Homo sapiens: one gene and its partners. The protein of the gene in region 3 purifies or fractionates together with the protein of the main gene of each other region. This does not show direct contact. Each region holds a gene or a part of one and is shown on either strand. Other genes may lie near its edges.

Region 1 (4,187 bases), on a different chromosome or scaffold from region 3:
TAGAACAAGCACACTCACAGACAGACACAAAGTAGATTAGAGATTAAGAGGAGGAAATGGGAAGTTAACTTGTTTAATGGTTACAGTTTCTTTTTTTCTTTTTTTTTGAGATGGAGTCTGGCTGTGCAGCCCAGGCTGAAGTGCAATGGCATGACCTCAGCTCACTGCAACCTCTGCCTCCTTAGTAGCTGGTGTTACAGATGCATGCCACCATGCATGGCTAATTTTTGTATTTTTAGTAGATACGGGGTTTCACCATGTTGGCCAGGCTGTTCTTGAACTCCTGAACTCAAGTGATCTGCCCACGTTGACCTCCCAAAGTGCTGGGATTACAGGCGTGAGCCACCATGCCCTCCCTGGTTACAGAGTTTCTGTTTGAGATACTAAAGTTTCAGAAATAGTGGTATTGCTTGTACTACATTGTGAATGTAATTAATACCATTGAATTGTATACTTTTTTTTTTTTTTTTTGAGATGGAGTCTCGGAGTCTCGCTCTGTTGCCCAGGCTGGAGTGCAGTGGCGCAATCTCGGCTCACTGCAAGCTCCGCCTCTCGGGTTCACACCATTCTCCTGCCTCAGCCTCCTGAGTACCTGGGACTACAGGCGCCCACCACCACGCACGGCTCATTTTTTGTATTTTTAGTAGAGATGGGGTTTCACCGTGTTAGCCAGGATGGTCTCGATCTCCTGACCTCGTGATCCGCCCACCTCGGCGTCCCAAAGTGCTGGGATTACAGGCGTGAGCCACCGTGCCTGGCTGAATTGTATACTTAACAATGGTTTAAAGAGCAAATTTTGTTAAAATATACATAAACATACATAAAAATATATATTTACCACAATTTATTTAATTGATTTTTTTTTTTTTGAGACAGTCTTGTTCTGTGGCCCAGGTTGGAGTGCAGTGGCACTATCTCCCCTTACTACAACCTCTACCTCCCCGGCTCAAGCGATTTTTCCATCTCAGCCTCCTGAGTAGTTAGGGCTAACAGGAGCATGCCACCACGCCTGGCTAATTTTTTTTTTTTGTATTTTTTGTAGAGACAGGGTTTTGCGATGTTGCCCAGGCTCACAATTTGTTTTAGAAATACTATAACAGGGCCGGGCACGGTGGCTCACGCCTGTAATCCCAGCACTTTGGGAGGCCAAGGCAGGTGGATCACCTGAGGTCAGTAGTTCAAGACCAGCCTGGCCAACATAGCGAAACTCCGCCTCTACTAAAAAAATACAAAAAATTAGCTGGGCATAAGGCGAAACGCTGCCTCTACTATGTTGGTTTTTGTTGAGTTTTGCGGGTTTTTTTTTTTTTTTTTTTTTTTTTTTTTTGAGACAGAGTTTCACTCTTGTGGCCCAGGCTGGAGTGCAATGGAGCAATCTCAGCTCACCGCAACCTCCGCCTCCCAGGTTCAAGCGATTCTCCTGCCTCAGCCTCCCAAGTAGCTGGGATTACAGGCATGTGCCACCATGCCCGGCTAATTTTGTACTTTTAGTAGAGACGCGGTTTCTCCATGTTAGTCAGGCTGGTCTCGAACTCCCCACCTCAGCCTCCCAAAGTGCTGGGATTACAGGTGTGAGCCACCAGGCTCGGCCTGGTAATAGAATTCTATAAGGAAAGGTGCTACAACTATCCAGAGAGACCTGGGACCTGTCCTGCAGGTTAGGTATCTAGTTAGATGCTAGTTTCTGAGACAAGGTTCAAATTCAACTTTTGTGTTTCACCAAAATGGTAACATATTATTTAGTTACTTTCTTCACTGCCAGTCCTACCATCACGCACCAGCTCTTGACACCTCTCGTTAGAGACCTCACAAATTCAGTAATGGTGACATATTTAAATCATTCACGCTGGTGGCATTTCTCAATAGGAAGGTGGAAACTAGCAAGCCGAGGGCACAATCCAGGGTTCAGAAAATGAACCAGGTGACCATGTCTGCATGTCTACTGAACTCCTTCACTTAAATCCGGCTACTCTGACCTTCACAAGCAAACCTGGAATATGCAAAAAATACAATTACGCTCACGGTTTATGTACCCTACGAAACAGGGCCCTTCCTTCAAAAAAAAAAAAAAAAAAAAGGCATTCCCAAAGTTGAACCCATTCGCCTAACGTCAATTCTAAAATAAAGAGAAAAACATCTATTTACACCGCTAATGGAATCTAAAGCGTGAATACGATAAAACATCCTTCTCCTTCATTGCCTAACGGGCGCAGAACCCACCAGACCACTCTCCCGCTTCCAGGTTCTACCGCCCCGACGACCGGGCTCGGAGCTCTTGTGCCCTCCGGTCCAGCGGAGCCTCCCTTGTGTCTGTCCAAGTCTGAGGACGAGGCTACGTGCTAAGCACAAGAGCTCCCTTCCTAGTGATGCCACAGAATTGGATCTGAAACAGGAAAACCGCAAGAACAGCCCGCTTACAGCTCCGAAGAGTAGGAGCACAGAGCCGCAACCACGCGCCGGCCCCAGCCTCACAGCTGGCCGCTCCGCGGCGGGACCGGTAATCTACTGCCGCGCCGGGCCCCGCCCCAGGCCCGCGACGGTTCCGGGGCGTTCCTGCCACGGGCGGCGCCTCCCTCATCTCACCGTTGCTTGGTCTTCTTCCCGAGCGAGGCCGCAGCCGCCCCGCGACACTGAAGCCACAGCTTTCAGGCTGCGCGGGCCTGCGATGTCTAGAGCGGGCCTGTCTGCTGGCTATTCCCTGGCAGGCTCTGGCACGCCTCCCCTCCAGTCCCGGGCCCTTACCTAGGCGGCGAAGCCTCCACGGCCCGCTCCTCCTTCTCCTCAGCCTCCGCCACCGACCCAGCGCCGCGGACACCGGAACTTCCTCCGCGCGGGGCCACTGCTACCACAAAGGCGCCGCGCCGCTGCCTTCAGCGCTCGGCCCGCTGGGAGATGAAGTACAGCTGCCGGTCCCGCAGACTCTTACTCCCGCCGTGCCCCGCGCGCAGGGGACTTGCCTTCTGGGGTGGGTCGTAAGAGCACGCTGTCCATCGCCATCCAATAAGAAGGCGCGCTTACCCGCCCTACTCCGCGTGACCTGCTGGGAGTTGTGGTTTGGCCTCTGCCCTGTGACACCTGGTCCTCTTGTGCTTTCCTCTCAGTTGATTGAGGCTTACAGTTTTTTGGTGGCTTGACTTTCCTGAGGTTTGCTCCCTGCCAGCAGCTCGGGTACGGCCCTGGCCTGCCTAGCTCGAGGCCTCCTTATTGTCCGTTAGTGTGAGAGAAATGGAAGGGAGCTTCTTCGGGAGTAAGTTTAAGCCATCTCCAGCTGGTTGGCGGGGCGCGGTGGCTCACGCCTGTAATCCCAGCACTTTGGTAGGCCGCGGCGAGTGGACCACCTGAGGTCAGGAGTTCTAGACCAGCCTGGCCAACATGGTGAAACCCCATCTCTACCAAAAATACAAAAATTACCCGGGCTTGGTGGCAGGTGCCTGTAATCCCAGCTACTCGGGAGGCTGAGGCAGGAGAATCACTTAAACCCGGGAGGCAGAGGCAGAGGTTGCAGTGAGCCGACACTGTGCCACTGCACTCCAGCCTGGACAATAGAGCAAGACTCCACCTCAGAAAAAAAGAAAGAAAGAAAAAGGCCGGGCGCAGTGGCTCATGCTTGTAATCCTAGCACTTTGGGAGGCCGAGGTGGGTGGATCACGAGGTCAGGAGTTCAAGACCAGCCTGGCCAAGATAGTGAAACCCCATCGCTACTAAAAATACAAAAAGTAGCCAGGCGTGGTGGCGCATGCCTGTAATCCCAGCTACTCAGGAGGCTGAGGCAGAGAATTGCTTGAACCCGGGAAGCACAGGTTGCAGTGAGCCGAGATCGCGCCACTGCACTGTTGCCTGGCAACAGCGCAAGACTCCGTCTCAAAAGAAAGAAAGAAAGAAAGAAGTTGGGCGCAGTGGCTCACGACTGTAATCCCAGCACTGTGGGAGGCCGAGGCGGGTGGATCACGAGGTCAGGAGATCAAGACCATCCTGGCTAACACGATGAAACCCTGTCTCTACTAAAAACACAAAAAATTAGTGGAGCGTGGTGGCGGGCACCTGTAGTCCCAGCTACTCAGGAGGCTGAGGCAGGAGAATGACGTGAACCCGGGAGGCGGAGCTTGCAGTGAGTCGAGATAGCGCCACTGCACTCCAGCCTAGGCGACAGAGGGAGACTGTCGCAAAAAAAAAAAAAAATTACCCGG
Region 2 (3,565 bases), about 27 Mb from region 3:
GTCAGGAGTTTGAGACCAGCCTGGCCAACATGGTGAAACCCCGTCTCTACTAAAAATACAAAAATTAGCCAGGTGTGGTGGCGGGTGCCTGTAATCCCAGCTACTTGGGAAGCTGAGGCAGGAGAATTACTTGAACCCAGGAGGTGGAGGTTGCAGTGAGCCAGGATTGCATCACTGTGCTCTAAGCCTGGGTGACAGAGCAAGAATCCATCTTGGGGGGGAATTAAAAAAAGGTGGGTTTCAAGGTAATTTCAATGAGACTCCATGCTGCTGAGTCCTAATCAGGGTGGTGGCCTTGAAATGCTAGGAAGACTACATCTGACCAGAATGCACAAGATAAAAAATCCTAGTGTTTCTAACTTATAAAACAAACCAACTCAATAGTAATGAATTGAAGTCAGGTAAAAATTGGCGTGAGATGAATGTAAAAATTTCCTAGCACTGGTAAAGCAGATTTGATAAATTTCAGAAACTGAACAATGACTGAAGCTTTTTAATTCAAACAAATTTTGACCATTTTACAATCTCTACCCCAAATTTCTTCACAGTTCCTGGCTCATTTCTTTGAATGAAGAATGTATTTGCTTTTTGCCATGATAAAAAATGTATGGTCTCTGAACTTTGGGGCCTTTAAAAAGTGCCAATTTATAACAGTAGTGCCAGCTCAGATACTGAAATTTAATCATTGAATTTCTAGAATAAAAGACGAATACTCCACTTACTATAAAAACCACTAGTTAGGGTTTTTGTTCTTTGAGACAGCTCTGTCACCCAGGCTGAAGTGCAGGGGCATGATGATGGCTCACTGCAGCCTCGACTTCCTGGGCTCAGGTGATCCTCCTGCCTCAGCCTTCCAAGTAGCTGGGACTGTGGGTGTGTACCACCATGTCCAGCTAAATGTTAATTTTTTATGGAGACAAGGTCTCACTATGTTGCCCAGGCTGGTCTCAAACTCCTGGGCTCAAGCGATCCTCCTGCCTCAGCTTCTCAAAGTGCTGGGATTACAGGTGTAAACCACTGCACGCAGCTCTAGTTTTTACTACAGGATAAATTAATTTGAAGCTACACAAATCTGGAAATTAAAAAAAGAACCCAGTTTCCTTTTAATTTCCACAGTTAATCTCTGTAGGGAGAACTGTGAGATAGTGTTGTCGGGTGAGCAAAAAACATCTCCTGCACATGGGGAGCTTACTTGCTACTGAGGGTGACTGACAATAAACCATGAATATGATATATTATAGTTACACTCTATTAGAATGAGGCAAGTGCAATGGGAAAAACAGCAGCATAAGCATTGGAAGTGTTGGGGGCGTTGCAATTTTAAGTGGGGTGGTCAGGATAGACCTCAATGGGAATGAGCCATGTGGAGATCTGGAGAAAGACAGTGCTGGTGGAGGAGGAGCCATGCAGAGATCCTGAGGGGAGAGTACGCCTATAATGTTTGAGGAAAAGTGGGGAGCCAATTGTGGCTGCAGTAGAGTGAGTGAAGAGGGGGATATTAGCAGGTGTGGTCAGAAGGGCAACAGGGCACTCAATCATGTCAAGGGATGTAGGCTATTTTAAGGATTTAGTGTTTACTAAGAGAAATGGGAAGGTTATCAACAAGGAAAGGTCATGATGTGACATGTATTTTTCAGTTATCTGTACTCTGGCTGCCTAGTGGAAAACAGACTGTGGAAGGCAAAGAATAAAAGCAGAGAGACCATTCCAGTAATTATTAAAAACATCCAGGTGAAGAATGACAGTAGCTTGGACCAGGGGGTAGCAATGAAGGTAATAAGAATTTGTTGGATTCTGGGTATATTTTGAAGGTTGAGTTCATTGGATTCCTGATGAAGGATGCATGAGAAACAGAAGAATCATGAATGATCCAGGTTTTTGGCTTCAGCAGCAGCGAGGACGAGGCCTCTATTAACTGAGATTGGAAAGACTGTGGGTGGAGGAGGTTTGGTGGAGAAAAGTTCCATTTGAGATGCCTGTCAGGCATTCAAATGAACATGCTGACTGTGGATTAATCTGGTGTTCAGGTAGAGGACATTTACATCTCCAGGCTGGAGATATACATTTGGAAACAAATGACAAAATGCACTGAATATACTGAGATCAAATTGGCAGACATTCTTCTCCAGAACTCATTTCTCCTTTTCTTCCACTTACAAAAGTATTACCCATTACCATTTTTTATAGAACACAACTCTTTAGCTATAAGAAGCATAATTTAAGAGAGAAATAGACAAAATGGAATGTATTCAGAGATGAATGACCATCATCAGTTGTCAAATATACAAAATACACATGGAATAAGGGTGATGTCAAGAACACTGCCAATGGGAGAGAGTTATGAAATAAAAACAGGCAGATTTCTATTGTACACAGAAGGGCTTCATAACTGTTACATCTGTCCACCAGTGGACTGGCTGCCTCTGGAAGCAGTGAGTGAGCCTTGCAGCAACTAAATATTTCAAAAAGAATGTTTTATAGAAGACAGTCTAGCTGCATGACCCCTTAGAATATGTGCAAACTCTAACATCCTACCGTTCTCAATATAAAATTATAAGTTGACTTATTCAACAAATATTTATTATACCTATTACGTAAGTAAGGGACTATCACAGGTACTGTGGGAAAAGGAACATGAGCAAGAACTCCTCCCTTTAAAAGGGATTCCGGTGAAGTAGGAAGACAAAACGTAATTACAACCTTCCAGCATGAAGGAAGGAGGCAGTAAAGATGTCCAAGTAGAGGTGATGGGAATCAGAGGAGAAAGATGGTCTGCAGCTGAGAGGTCCAGGGAAGAGCAGATGGCATTAGAGGAGGGCCTGGAAGGATCTGGAAAATGTGAACATTGTCCGAGAAGGAAATAAAGACTCTAAGCCCATAAAGATCTAATTAAAAGCTCTTCTACAGTATGTCTAGTTAATTTTACACAGAGAAACTTGAATACAAGAAGATTAAAACTTAGCAAAAGGGGCAGCTCAGTGGCAGAGCTGAGGAAATACTAACAAGTTCTCCTTCCCAGGCTTCTCTTCCAGAGATTTCAAGTTGCTTGGGACCAAGAACCCTGGGCTTTGAGTTGATCTCAAGGTTACACACTGAGACATGTAGCTTTTTGAAGCTGCTCTGGGAACAGAGTTCTCAGAATCCTTGGCCAGAGGAAGATTTCTCCCCTCATTACCACAGGGAGCTCAACTTTGGCAGTGCTGTTTCCATCGTGACCAGGAAGCATCCATAATGTTGGGTTACTGGAGGCTCTGTGACAAGCACCTGTCCTTTTATTCTAGGGCAGCAATGTCTTAACTGCAGGGGGAGGGAGTAAGGAAGGTGGGGGTGAGTGAACACAGACTTCAGGTGGGTTCATCAGGGAGTTTCCAGGGGCTTTGGAAGAACTTCCAGCTGTAGCATGGGATGACCTGGCCTTCTCCACCCTTGCTTTCCTTTTTCATTTCTTGCAGTCACCCCCTTCCAGCTTTTAAGCTACAGGTTCCTCCAAGAAAGCTGCAAAAGCAGAGCTCAAACAGCTTTTGTAGAAGAAAGGTTTAATGTAAATTCTGATATTTTGTTGGCA
Region 3 (3,565 bases):
TTCAGCCCACAGAACTTGAAGATAATATATTTATTTGTGTTATTTTAAGCCACTAAGTTCATAACAATTTGTTGCAGCTGCAGTAGAAAACTAATATATTATTTCACAGACATCTTTTTACATCAGTATTTACAGATTTTTTTTTTTTTTTTTTTTTGAGACGGAGTTTTGCTCTTGTCACCCAGGCTGGAGTGCAATGGCACGCTCTCGGTTCATTGCAACCTCCGCCTCCCAGGTTCAAGCAATTCTCCTGCCTCAGCCTCCCGAGTAGCTGGGATTACAGGCACCCGCCATTACGCCTAGCTAATTTTTGTATTTTTAGTAGAGACGGGGTTTCACCATGTTGGCCAGGCTGGTCTCGAACTCCTGACCTCAGGTGATCCACCTGCCTCGGCCTCCCAAAGTGCTGGGATTACAGGTATGAGCCACCTTGAGCCACCGCGCCCGGCCCCTATCTCATTTTGTTTTAATGGTGTTTAATATGTTTGACATCTTCCAACAAGATACGTCTGCCTGAAACTCCAATAGGGCAATGAAGAAAACTGATTGCTGAGGAAACATAACTAAAAAGGAATATTGCAACTAAATGTGGGGATCTTATGTTATTAAAGTTTTATCCTCATATACTTAAGTAAGGGTGGTATTTACCAACTCTATTTAATCTAACATTCTTTCTCAATTACGTATCCATCCAGGAAAAGAAAGTAAATGAAAAACTTTTGTCTTTCTAATATTTTTATGATTGTCTCTCCAGGAAATCTATTAAGACTCACCTCAACCAGTCAAATAGCATTCAAATTTCTGTATGTTATTTCATTGCTTTAACATTTTAAGTTTTTATAAAATTGCCTAATCATAAAACTTCCTCTGGGGATATTTCTTCCAGAGAAGCTTTAAGGTCTTTATCATTCCTTAAGAGGGCAAGATCCTTGTACTCTGCTGCTTTTCTTCTGTTACAGTAACTTTCCTGCATAGACCTGTTAACCAGCTCTGATAAAGAAGCCATGTGATGTTGCATAAACAGCATTTACTGTGGGACCCTCTCTTACCTTGCATGGCCTCTCCACAGATAAATGGCATCTCCGTAAAATGAGCAAACCAGACTTCAGTCTTCTGAACCGCAGGACACAGCTAGATTCACTTTAAAGCATACCACTCTATCCTTCAAATTATTATCTCCTTCACAGTGATATGTAAAGTAACAAAACCCCAGGGGGCCCTTTAAACAAAGAGCAAACCTTGCTTCTTAATAAACTGATGCCACTTTTAGACTCCACTGGATACACATCCTTCTGTTACATCTAACAGAGAAATAAGTTGTCCTGTACGAGCCAAGGATATCATTTTAATACCATGATCTGGAAGTGCCCTTAACAACAACAACAACAACAACAATCTAGTCTAGATGTCCCAACTGTTAGAAAGATGAGCTACAACCATCTTACAGGTCTACAATACCTTAACCAGAAATCTATAGCTCTGAAAATTAAAAGTTTTTTCAATAACACTTTTGGTGGCAAAATCTAATCTGACCTGAACTCATCTGACAGCAAAATCTGACCTGAACTGATATGAGGTTATTTATCACTTTTATCCCTTTAGTGTGAATATTCATACATCGTGTTGTAGAAATATCAGTATGAATAGGGCAGCACCACAGATCCCACAGGAAGTGTTATATAATATATAGTTTATGCATCTTACTCTAAAGAACAAAACATAAATCTGAATTCCAAAATGCACCTTGCCCCAAGGGTTTTGAATAAAGGACCAGGAATCTATATTCAAAAACAACTATCGTTTTTTAGTAGAAGTCTCAAAACTTTTAACTATTTTATACTTAACTTGGTTTCTTTTATGTACTTTGAACATTTACTTCATTTTGGAGAGTACACTGGGGAGTTGCATTGCTTCCAGTGGGACAGTCTATGGATGCTTTCATGATTTTTTTTTTTTTTTTTTTTTTCATTTTTGAGATGGAGTCTTGCACTGTCGCCTGGGCTAGAGTGCAATGGCATGATCTCAGCTCACTGCAACCTCCACCTCCTGGGTTCACATGATTCTCCTGCCTCAGCCTCCCGAGTAGCTGGGATTACAGGTGCACACCACCACACCTGGCTAATTTTTGTATTTTTAGTAGAGACAGGGTTTCACTATGTTGCCCAGACTGGTCTTGAAATCCTGACCTTGTGACCTGCCCACCTTGGACTCCCAAAGTGCTGGGATTACAGGCGTGAGCCAATGCGAAGGGCCAATGATTTATTTCAATGACGATTTACATTTGTTTCAAAAGTTTTAAACCAATTTTATGGTGAACACTCACGGAGCACCAAAATGAATTTTTGCAAGGAATATCCTGCCTGCAAATACTCCATCGGCTCATCTTCTCAATGGAGGAAGGAAGCCTGGGTTCTTAAGTTTCATACAATGCTGCCAATTTGGTGAAGAAGAGGTGAATAAATGAGAGATGCTCTGGGGGCAGAACAACTAGTACTTGGTGATTAGACAAAGGTGGGGGACCAAGGAGAAGCAGGTATCAGAAATGATCCCTGGTTCTGCCTCAAATAGCTGTGTGTTGGTGGCTCCATTTCCTGAAATGGGCAAGAGTGAGGGAGATACGATTCTGAAGCAAAGATAAGATTCTGGTAGGATAAAATTTATTTTTAAGTTCAAGATGTCTGTGAGAAACCCAAGAGTACATATTAAGTGAATAGCTGAATATATGAACATGGAGTTCAAGAGAAAAGTCTCAGCAGCTGCTAAACTTGGGAGGGCGTATGGATAGTGTTTAAAAACAAGACAATAGATAATGTCATTGGGTATATGGAAAGAGAAAGGAAAGCGCAGTGTCAAGCTTTAAGGAGCTCCTGCGCCTGGAAGTTGGATAGGATGAGGATCGGACAAAGAGGACTGAGACTGAGAAGTGGTCTGCCGTGGGCACATGAAAGCAAAGGAAAGCACTTCAGGGAGGACGTCAATTAGGTCAAGGCAGCTGGGGTCTTGTAAGATAACTAAAGTGTCCATTGGATTTGCCAACACAGGTAACGGCTGAGCATGGCCACAATCTCAGTGGTTTGTTTGGGCACTGAAAACCAGATTGAAGTAAGCTGAATATAAACAGGAGGTGACAATGTGGAAATATCTTTATTTTCAGTGGGTGATCCTTTTGAAAAATGTTGAAATGGCAAACAAAGAAATGGAGCAGTAGCTGAAGGGGAATGTGAAAATGAAGGGTTTTCTTTTGCTGGAGGTTGGGGAGATGGGAGGAAGCTGAATATGTCTGCATGACAAAGGCTGTGGTCCTGGATACAAGGATGATGAGGACAGTGGGCAGAGCCAAAGTCCCAGACAAAGTGAAGGAGGATGCCATCCAGAATATATGTGGGGGGATTGTTTTTTTCATAAGAAGAAAGGTCTACGTTTTTGAAAGAAGAGAGATCACAGGTACAGATATAAGCAGAATTATACATTTTGTGGTGGGAGGATAAGGGTTCCATATGATGGTACCTGGAAGTGAAGAGGACTTCACAGTATGCATGTTGTATAGTCTGTTTCTTTATTTTAT
Region 4 (4,236 bases), on a different chromosome or scaffold from region 3:
GTGATGAAAGAAGTGGATTGTGTGTTGGATTCATGTCTCCACCTAAATTCTGAGCCCGTGAATGCCTTCTTTTTCATTCCTCAAAGAAGTAAAATTTATTCACATTAAGCATTTATTAAATGCTAGGCCCTGTGCTAAATACTCCACACACATTATTTCATTCAATCCCCAAGACACTCTACCAAGTAGGTCTTATCATCAGTATCAGCCTCATTTACAAAAGAGGAAATTGAGGCTTGGAGAAGTTAAGTAACTCACTCCAAGATACCCAGCTGGTCGGTGATGAAGCCAGAATTAAAAGACAATACTCCCAGAACTTCAGAGCTAGAGGGAATCCTACAATTATCTTTCCCCCTTAGCCTTCTTGAAGCTGAGGTTTATAACTTACTGCCTGGCACATAGTAGGCCCTTGAAAATAGTGATTAATACATTGACGGAGTGCCCTAATTTCTCAGATTCTGGCCTTCCCCTGAGAGAGCCCAGCTGCCACCACAAATAGACTCTATTCTTTCTGCCCAACACCTCTCACAGGTGTGAATTGCTTGTGTCATCTGAATTATTCATGATCCACACAATGGTAAGTGTGCTTTAAAAGAGAACTACAATGCTGTATTTTTCAAGACAAAGTGCCTGATTAATTGGGGAATTAGGCAGTATAAACTCATGGGCTAGGCTGATTCATGCCAAACAATACATCCATGCCCACTTTTTGAATTTCAGTTTTCACATAATTTCCCATTTTCCCTTAGGATTAAAAATAGGGGTAAATAAAGCAGGAAAAAGAACTATCATGGGCATCTCTAACCTATCTGAAAGCAATTACCATCATCTAAATCTCATACTGTGTTGTTTCAAACCAACGTATTCTTCCGAAGGCTGACTTAGGATTTTCAATCAGGTTTCTTAAGCTACATCAAGATCTGGAAATTCAGATGCCACAGCAGCTGTAATTCATGCCACCAGTAAATCATGTGACACCACCAGCTCCTTGTCCTTTCTCCTTTCGTCTTTTCTTTTGCCCCACCAGTTCATTTTCTAGTGGGCAGTTTTCTGAGAGGGATAACCATATGCTAATAGAAAGCCAACACCACTGTATTTTAAATTCAATGTTAGTCAACCAAAATGAATTGAAAAACAGCAGCAGTGGTTTGAGGGTACTAAAAATAAACTGTAGCATTTGCTGAGTTCTCAGAATTAAAACCACGGCGGTCAACTTGTTGCTGCTCTTAATAAGATATGACTTCTGCCCCATTGGCTGCCACTACTAGAAACTTGAACTATATCACACACCTAACAACAACGTGTTTTCAATTAGTTGGCAGTGATCGAGAAAGGAAGTGCCATTTCCCAGGAAGTAAATCTGCCAAGAAAGATAACAGATGGCTTTCAAGTGATCACCTTGTGCCACATCACAATTGCACCTTAGTCAAATTCACCTTGCATTTATGATTTAGTGAGTTACACATCTAAAGCTGTGGTTGCCTTTTTGCCCTGCTTGCTATCCAATGCCTCCAAAAAGGTGTTTCTTCCTTTGAGTTTAATTCGCGAATAATAATAAAAACAGCCCAATGGGACTTAATACAATATTAATATATTGAAGCACTTCCATTAGGACTTCATGACCTTCTTGACCCTTAAATACTGTATACTACCCTAAATGTCTTATCAGCTATCCCTTTGGGTTTGTCATTAAAGTTTTCAATGACCAGAGAGGTACAGGAATTCTACCTAATGCATCATTCTGATTAGAAACCTGTCATACTCAGAAACCAGTGGGTCTGCCTCTATTGATTCCTACTCCTTCAGATTCATTAGCAATTTTTTTCTCTTCAATTAGACCCGATGATCAACCATAGAAAAGCTGAAAGAAGCCTTCCCTTTGCTCAACCATTCTTAAAAGGAAAAAAAATGCATGCCTTGCTAGTGAAATTACAGCCACTATTATCAGAAAATCTCTAAGGAGTCTCTCTCTCTCTCTCTCTCACACACACACACACACACACTCTCTCTCTCTCTCTCTCTCTCTCTCTCTCTCTCGTAAATGTGCCAAGAGTCAGAGGATGGGCTCGACCTCTCTTCCCCTAACCCACTTCAATCAGGATCAGAAAGATACATCCCTTCATTGCTGCTGTCTAAAACCCATGCCCAAGCGAGTGTCTCCATAGAGCTAATTTCTGAAACAAACAAAGAAAATCAAGTCTGCGAGGAGCGAGGGTTTGCTCCCCTCTGCTCCGGATTTGGGTGTCCAGGGTAGCGGGCGCGGCACGGCAAACAGGTCGGGGCGCTCTGCTTCACCCCAACCTTCTCCGCCCCGCCAGCCCCCGCTCCAGCTGCGCCAGAAAGTGCGAGCCTGCCCGCTCCTTTCGCTTTTCGCTCGCTGCACTCCAAGCCCCGGAACACCCGCGTCCGCACACTAAGGGCACCACCGCTCTCCCACCTCTGCGCTGTCAGATGTCAGGCGCGGAGGTGCTCTGGGCACCGAGGTGCTGGCGAACCAAACAAGTATCACCCCGGACGCCTGCCCCCATTCCGAGAGAGCGGGCGGGATGGCCACAGGTAGGCTCTGTCCATCCCAGGCTGCGGGGCGAGGGCAGTGGGGCGAGACCCGGCGCGGCAGCAGCGCCCGACGGGCTGAAACTCACCGGAGGACACCGACGAGCCGGACAGGCTGGAGTTGCTGGACGCTGCCATCTCCGCGCGCCCCTCGCGTCGCTGCTCGCTCAGCCCCGGTGCGGACGCCGCCGCCGCTGCCCTCGCCCGGCCGCTCGCAGCCTCCGCGGCCCCCAGCCCATGGCAAAGTCCTGGGGACGCGCAGAAAGCACCAGCCTCCGGACTCTGCCTGCACTTCCTGCTCCACCAGATGACGCGCTGCCGCCGCCGCTATTTATTTGTGGTTTCCGTCCCGCTCCGCGCCTTTGCACGCTTTTCTATGGGTGTCAGGGGGTAGGTGGGAGCAGAGGGAGGCCGAGGGGCAGCCGGGACGGGCGGATCTCGGCTCCCGCCGAGCCCCTCTGCCGTCCACGCTCCCCTGTGCGCGGCTGGGACCAGGGCGTCCTGGCAGCTCCGAGCCGCCCCGCCAGCTCCCGCACCCTCTCCTGGGCTCCCGCCTCTCCCGCCGCACTTCGAGTAGACCGGGCAGAGGCGGCGGGAGACGGACAGACAGAGCGACCTCCCCCTTCTCCCTCCGCCCCAACTCCGCTCGCGCACACACAAAGGAAGAAGAGGAGACGCGGTCGCTCGGGGGGTGGTTCGGCTGCTGCGGGCTTGACAGCTCCCGCCACTGGGGCTGGAGGGGGAGGCTGCGGACTGCTGGACAGGGGGAGGCGGGACGGGGGACCGGGTCCCCGGGGTGCTGGGGAGGCCGGGGCCGGGCGCGGGGCGAGCGCGGCTGCTGCGCGCAGCGCTGCTCCTAGGATTTGAAGGGGATGGGGAGGGAGGGTGTGGGGGAAGGTGGTGGGGCTCACCGCGCCCCGCCGGGCTCTCGAGCAGCGAGACAGTGGGGGTGGGGGATCCAGAGGGCGAAGGCGGGATCACTAGGGCCACGGTGCTAGGCAGAAGGGAACCTGGGATGACAGAGCCACTATGGAGCGCTCCTTCCACTCCTCTCCAAATTGTCCTTTGTTGCTCTGGAGCTGACGGTCCCTGCCCTGCAAGAAGGTGCGTTTCCTAAAACACCCGGGAAGCCAACCCAGCTACACTTAAGTAACCCAGCCACGGACAGTGCCCGACGCGTCCGTGGGCCTCTGAGGTTGGCCTTCAAAGAAATAGAGCCGTCCAAACGTGTCATCAGGCCCACACAAAGCTGGTGTCAAAGAGAAAGAGGTTCTCCGTGCCTTGCAAAAAAAGATTCTCACAAAAGACTTAAGACTTGGCAGCAGGTCCGACTGTGCCCTTTCAGGATAGGAACTGCTCAGGTGTGTGAGAGAAAGAGACTCGAGCACAAGGTGTGTCCCTTCCCCCTGTATTTAAACCTAAATTAATTTCACTGGGAGGAAATACCATGCAGATTTTTTTTAAGTCTGTTTCACGCTCCCAGCGGGCTAATCGGTTCTTTCAATCCTAAAGCAACAGAAAACTGTGAAATTTGAAGAGAAATTGTTAGATCAAAGGAAAAAGCAAACATTAAAGGAATGAAAGTACTCTCATTATATAGCAAAAATGGAAAGTGTTCACATTGGGGTAGTTCAACTTTTTAAAACATGGTTAAAAGAACATAGTCAATTTAAAAATTATCAG

The links.
Region 1: the proteins of ALS2 (region 3) and RBM6 purify together in Homo sapiens (affinity purification with mass spectrometry; one large-scale study listed by BioGRID and IntAct). This does not show direct contact.
Region 2: the proteins of ALS2 (region 3) and CHN1 purify together in Homo sapiens (affinity purification with mass spectrometry, with the first as the bait; one large-scale study listed by BioGRID). This does not show direct contact.
Region 4: the proteins of ALS2 (region 3) and CHN2 purify together in Homo sapiens (affinity purification with mass spectrometry; one large-scale study listed by BioGRID and IntAct). This does not show direct contact.

What each region holds. Positions count from the first base shown.
Region 1 is NC_000003.12:49,938,781-49,942,967, reverse strand, and holds the start of RBM6 (RNA-binding protein 6), read right to left. Parts: upstream 2,819-4,187; 5' UTR 2,743-2,818; exon of another isoform or gene 2,584-2,742; intron 1-2,583. UniProt on the Homo sapiens protein: Specifically binds poly(G) RNA homopolymers in vitro.
Region 2 is NC_000002.12:174,802,825-174,806,389, forward strand, and holds part of CHN1 (N-chimaerin), read right to left. Parts: intron 1-3,565. UniProt on the Homo sapiens protein: GTPase-activating protein for p21-rac and a phorbol ester receptor. Involved in the assembly of neuronal locomotor circuits as a direct effector of EPHA4 in axon guidance.
Region 3 is NC_000002.12:201,770,907-201,774,471, forward strand, and holds part of ALS2 (alsin), read right to left. Parts: intron 1-3,565. UniProt on the Homo sapiens protein: May act as a GTPase regulator. Controls survival and growth of spinal motoneurons.
Region 4 is NC_000007.14:29,193,397-29,197,632, reverse strand, and holds the start of CHN2 (beta-chimaerin), read right to left. Parts: upstream 2,859-4,236; 5' UTR 2,692-2,858; coding exon 2,643-2,691; intron 2,557-2,642; exon of another isoform or gene 2,182-2,556; intron 1-2,181.